2 separate regions of the Homo sapiens genome follow, and region 1 is linked to region 2. Evidence: fine-mapped expression QTL. A gene starts in region 2. The other region holds a variant in brackets. All regions are shown on one strand. Distances are from middle to middle.

Region 1 (2,910 bases), 68 kb after region 2:
TTTTAACTCTTCTACAACCTAGATGTATTGTTTGCAGATTTGAATGTATTCACTTAATATATTAAATGTTTAATATTAAATATAAAAAAAATTAAAAAAGAAATGCTTGTTCCCCAGTGCCGTAAAGAAATAGCACTTGAACATAAATTCAATTTCCTCAGGAAGGCCATTTTTACTTTCTGCAGAAAGGGTACCCTCGTCAGCAGTTTTGCCATGAGAGTACACTGAACAAAGGAGACAGGGTCATTTATAACCTGACGCGTCCACCCTACTGCTGTGTCCGGTTTCCATTGGCTGGAATGGGACTTCACATTTTGTATTTGTCCCGATTGGCTAGCAACTTAGAACTTTTAAAAGAGGCAAAGGCAGAGGAGAACAAAGGAAGGGGAAGTAACTTGTGGAATGCTGAGAAAGGTAAAAACACCTTCAAATAAGGATGAGGAACAGGCTATGACCTAATGTTTGTTTGGACCAGTATAAGCATGCCAGGGCAAATATTTAGGCTACATTGTGGGAGCTAAGAACATAAAGGACATTGATTTCTTTATTATGACTTGCAGATATTTAAGAATGTCACCACAGATCTTTGAATAAATTTTGCTTCTAAGAGAAGTTACTATTTATCCCTAATTAGATGGGGAGGAAAGTCTTTGAAGAGGAACCTCTACTTTTTATAATAGCGATTCTCCTACCTCAGCCTCCCAAGTATACAGGTGCTCGCCACCACATCAGGCTAATTTTTATATTTTTAGTAGAGACGGGGTTTCACCATGTTGGACAAGCTGCTTTCTAACTCCTGATCTCAGGTGATCCGCCCGCCTCAGCCTCCCAAAGTGCTGGGATCACAGGCGTGAGCCACTGCGCCTGACCGAGGATGGCATCTTTGATGTAAATAAGCTTTTCCCAAATTCACAGATTAAGACTTCTACTGTCATAAAACTCTTATCTTTCAATATTTGTTCTTGCTTATGCCTCTATGAACAATAAAAGTGGAAAAGGCATCTGTTATGTGCACTAATGGGATGTACTTTTATTTGTGAAGGAGTTTGCAGCCAACCTTATATATGGATAACTTTATACTTTAATAGATAAAAAATGAAGGCCCAGTGCAGGTAAAAAACTTTAATGGGGCCAGGCACGGTGGCTTATGCCTGTAATCCCAGCACTTTGGGAGGCCGAGGCAGGTGGATCACCTGAAGTCAGGAGGTTGAGACCAGTCTAGCCAATGTGGTGAAACCCCATCTCTACTAAAAAAA[T/A]ATATATATATATATACATAAAAATTAGCTGGGCATGGTGGTGCACCTGTAATCCCAGCTACTCGGGAGGCTGAGGCATGAGAATCGCTTGAACCCGGGAGGCAGAGGTTGCAGTGAGCCAAGATGGTGCCATTGCACTCTAGCCTGGGCAACAAAAGCGAAACTTCGTCTCAAAAAAAAAAAAGTATCCCTCATGATGGGTTCTATAGCAAATTCTACTGTAAAGGCTACAGTTATACAATAGACTTTAAATTCTCTTGTGAAAGTTAAGATAGAATTGGCTAAACAGAGAAGTATCTGTGCAGCTGCTGGCACTTGTGGCCTACGGAGAAATACATCACATGAAGATTATAGAAATATAGTGGTAGGGGATTAACAAAGAGACTGCTTAGTCAAATGAGTAAACTTTTTTTTTTTTTTGAGACGGAGTTTTGCTCTTGTTGCCCAGGCTGGAGTGCAATGGCACGATCTCGGCTCACCGCAACCTCTGCCTCCCGGGTTCAAGCGATTCTCCTGCCTCAGCCTCCCGAGTAGCTGGGACTACAGGCATGCACCACCATGCCTGGCTAATTTTGTGTTTTTAGTAGAGACGGGGTTTCACCATGTTGGTCAGGCTGGTCTTGAACTCCCGACCTCAGGTGATCTGCCCATCTCGGCCTCCCAAAGTGCTGGGATTACAGACATGAGCCACCACGCCCGGCCATGAGTAAACTCTTTATCTAGTTCATTCTTTGATCTATGTGATTTTAGGTGGTTTGGTTTATGGGGAACCTGGGTAAGGAGCATACTCCAAACTCTTGGTATCATCCTCCCGATAGTCATAATAATAGTCTCCCTGGTGCGCTCTATTCTCTCAAAGGTTTTAAATGCTTGCGTGCAGCCATCTCTAGAATGTCAAATGGTCTCTCTTCAACTGGAATAACAGGAGCTAAAAAAATGTGCAACCATAAGGACACTATAAGCTATAAATGATGTGCTGAGATAGGAAACCCAAAATGATGGTAACTGAGAGTGGCGCTAAGTCCCTAAGGTTTGGTCACACTCTCACTTAAATGACAGCCTAACCAAAAAGGGTAATTTTTTAAACAAAATTATGGAAGGCCATTGTTTTGGACTAGGCTCATGCACTAGGCCTCAACAAACCAAACCAAAATGGAGTCGCTCATGCTAGGACTTTAAGGAAACACATAGATTCTAAAACAGACCAAGTTTTTTTTCTCCTGCAAATCTCTATGACAAACCTTTCTTTTTTTTTTTTTCTGAGACGGAGTCTCACTCCCTCGCCCCCAGACTGGAGTGCAGTGGCTCAATCTCAGCTTATTGCAACCTCCACCTCCCAGGTTCAAGCAACATTCCTGCCTCAGCCTCCTGAGTAGCTAGGATTACAGGCATGCACCACCCCGCCCGGCTAATTTTTTTGTATTTAGTAGAGACAGGGTTTCACTATGTTGGCCAGGCTGATCCTGAACTCCTGACCTCGTGATCTGCCTGCCTCGGCCTCCCAAAGTGCTGGGATTACAGACGTAAGCCACTGCGCCTGGTCAATATAACAAACATTTCTAACAGCATAGGTATCCACCCCCTGCAGTTCCCATTAAATGTTTTAACCAAATTCATTTCCTCTTGCCTAGAGACCATCAAGCTTCAGCTGATC
Region 2 (2,910 bases):
TAGAAAAGCGGGTCTCATTATGTTTACCAGGCTGGTCTTGAACTCCTGGGCTCAAGCGATCCTCCTGCTTCAGTCTCCCCTGGTGCTGGGATTACAGGTGTGATCCACCACACCCGGCCAGGATAGGAGTGTTTGACTACTTTATTCACAACTATCTCCAGCAGCTAGAACTGTGCCTTAACAAAAAGCCTGCAGCATTTGCTGGGCACAGTAATCCTGTAATCCTTGGGAGGCTGAGGCGGGTGGATCACTTGAGCCCAGGAACTGGAGACCAGCCCTGGCACCTGGTAACATGATGAGACCTGGCTGGGCGAGGTGGCTCACGCCTGTAATCCCAGCACTTTGGGAGGCCGAGGCGGGCGGATCACGAGGTCAGGAGATAGAGACCATCCTGGCTAACACGGTGAAACCCCATCTCTACTAAAAATACAAAAAATTAGCCGGGCGTGGTGGCGGGCGCCTGTAGTCCCACTACTCGGGAGGCTGAGGCAGGAGAATGGCGTAAACACGGGAGGCGGAGCTTGCAGTGAGCTGAGATCGCGCTACTGCACTCCAGCATGGGCAACAGAGCGAGACGCCGTCAAAAAAAAAAAAAAAAAAAAGGTGAGACCTTGTTTCTACATTAAATAAATAAATAAATAAATAAACAAACCCATCCGTGCAGGCGTGGTGACGCGCCTGCAGTCCCAGCTACTCGAAAGGCTGAGGTAGGAGGATCTCTTGGGCCCGGGAGTTCGAGGCCGCAGTGAGCCGTCATGGTGCAACTACACTCCAGCCTGGGCTACAGGGCGAGACTTTGTCTCAAAAAAATAAAAAATATAAAAAATTTAAAAAACAGGCTGGGCGCAGTGGCTCACGCCTGGAATCCCAGCACTTTGGGAGGCTGAGGCGGGCGGATCACGAGGTCAGGAGATCGAGACCATCCTGGCTAACAAGGTGAGACCCCGTCTCTACTAAAAATACAAAAAATTAGCCGGGCGTGGTGGCGGGCGCCTGTAGTCCCAGCTGCTCTGGAGGCTGAGGCAGCAGAATGGCGTGAACCCGGGAGGCGGAGCTTGCCGACATCGCGCCACTGCACTCCAGCCTTGGCGACAGAGAGAGACTCCGTCTCAAAAAAAAAAAATTAAAAAAACAAAGTCTACGGAATCTGCTGAATTCTGATCTACTAAGCCTTCAGCAGCCATGCATGCCTTTTCCTGCCTCCATGCTATTGCACATACGTTCCCCATCGCCGAAAACCCTCATCCTGCCGTGAAGAAACTTCTCAGGATGTCCTAATCCCGGAAGCATCTACTCTCACCCCCCACTTTCCACTGCACTGGGGGCACCCCTAGTGTAGCGTCTGCCTCTTAGAGAACTTGGCAGTCTTACCGGCACCGTCTCTGCAGGCTCAGGGCCCCGCCTGGGAATCTCCTTCCCCTCCCCAGCCCGCCCTGCCCCATGCCCTCACCCCTCAATAGGTCGCGGGCCACGGCCGCGGGCTCCAGGCCCCCGCCGTCCTCCTCGCGGTCCCGGGCCCCGCGGGGACGTCGGGCCCCGGCCCCGGCCCCGGCCCCGGCGCGGTAGTTAGCTCCCGGCATCAGCTGGCAGTAGCGCTCGGAAGACGAATGGCGCCGCTTCCGCTCACGGCAGCCCCTGCCCCGCCTCTTCCGGCGTTCCCGGTCTCAACGTGGTGACGAATGGGCAGAAAACTGCGCGGTCGAGGGCCAGGGAGCCGGGCCCAAAGGATAACCCGCTCTGGAGACATTGTCGCAACCTTCTGCCCGAGTCGCAGGGTGCTGGGTTCCACGCCCGAGAAGCTTGGACCAGGCCTTGGTGGCATTTGGTTTCCTAATACCCTTGGCTGAGAAGCCAGAACCTCAGGGTGCTTGTCCTCGGCACCCTGCCCCCACTGCAAACTCCAGCCTTCTCCACCATATTCCACAAAAACACACAACACGTTTGGAGATTTTAATTAATTTTTATAAAATCTGAGCTGGCTGAACTTCAGAGTACAGCGACAGCTCAAGGAAGGGTGGGATTTATCTGCTGGTCCCCACCTCCCCAAGACGGGGAGAAGGAGGTCTCATGCCAACAGCTGCAACTCCTTTCAGCTCCCAGTCAAGGCTCAAGGCTCAAGCAGAGGGGAGGGGATAGGCAAAGGGGGAGGGGGAAGCTCCTGAGGCTCAGACACTGCTTGCTTCTCCCTTCTCCCCATTCCCTTCCCTTCCCAGCAGAACCTGGCTGGCCCTGGGCAGAGCTGAGGCCCAGGAGCAGCTGAAAGGAGGTGGATGGGGACAGAGCACCAAGGGGAAGGGGCCCTCGGCCCAAGGGGGGAGGAACCTAGCCCCCACCCCGCTACAGCTCCCCACTGAATTCACAGCACAGAGAACACCTCTCGCCCAACAACTCCACATGGAGGTATACCAAGTCCAGGGGTCAAAGGAGCAGGTGGGTGACAGATGGGCAGGGGCAGTGAAGATGACAGCAGGCTCAGGAGGGGAGGTGGCAGAAACTTCCTCCTACCCATGGGAGGAGACGATGGGGCGACTGATATTGCTGTTGGTGGTCATGGCATTCAGCTCCCACCTGGAAGGCCAACAATAAGAGACAGAAAGAAGAGGGGGCCCTCAGCCCAAGCTAAGGGATGTTTGAACCAAGCTAAAAACACACCAGTCTCTCCAACTTCCTAAAGGTCAACCACCCACAGCCACCTCTTACTTAAGAGACCTACTAGGTTGAACAATCAGAACCCACCCACCACCAAATCCAACACCACCCACTCCTCTACCTCCAAGCTCATATGGATTTCCGGTTTATGTTTATGTATGTATGTATATTGCAGTGTCCAGGCACCTGAGATCTGTGTATACATGTCAGTCAACATCCCAACCTGCCTTTCCTGCTTTGCTTAGAGCCAACCAGGCAGCC

Direction of the effects. Positions count from the first base shown, and alleles are read on the strand shown. Sizes are in standard deviations (SD) of each study's normalised expression.
In carriers of allele T in region 1, the expression in B cells of the gene that starts at base 1,612 in region 2 tends to be higher than with A alone (moderate effect, 0.55 SD a copy in Fairfax 2012).

What was found. PIP is the estimated chance that this variant, and not a neighbour inherited with it, causes the effect. A credible set is the group of variants that fine-mapping cannot tell apart.
Region 1: its variant is the best candidate, but not a certain one, in a credible set for the expression of RRP36 in B cells (Fairfax 2012, PIP 0.89).

The regions. Positions count from the first base shown.
Region 1 is chr6:42,952,099-42,955,008 of GRCh38, reverse strand. All of the region lies in intron 1 of CNPY3-GNMT (CNPY3-GNMT readthrough), which reads right to left. Among named protein-coding and RNA genes, the nearest start is that of GNMT, 7.2 kb to the left of the region's middle. The variant T/A (reference allele first, on the strand shown) is at 1,257.
Region 2 is chr6:43,020,325-43,023,234 of GRCh38, reverse strand. It overlaps RRP36 (ribosomal RNA processing 36), which reads right to left and starts at 1,612. Exons shown (of 7, transcript NM_033112.4): 1 at 1,451-1,612. The coding sequence starts at 1,580. KLHDC3 (kelch domain containing 3) reads right to left here. Exons shown (of 11, transcript NM_057161.4): 11 at 1,941-2,568. The coding sequence ends at 2,502. RefSeq lists enhancers at 597-1,328, 1,711-1,760, 1,821-1,930, 1,329-2,060 and silencers at 1,411-1,480, 1,491-1,540, 1,551-1,620.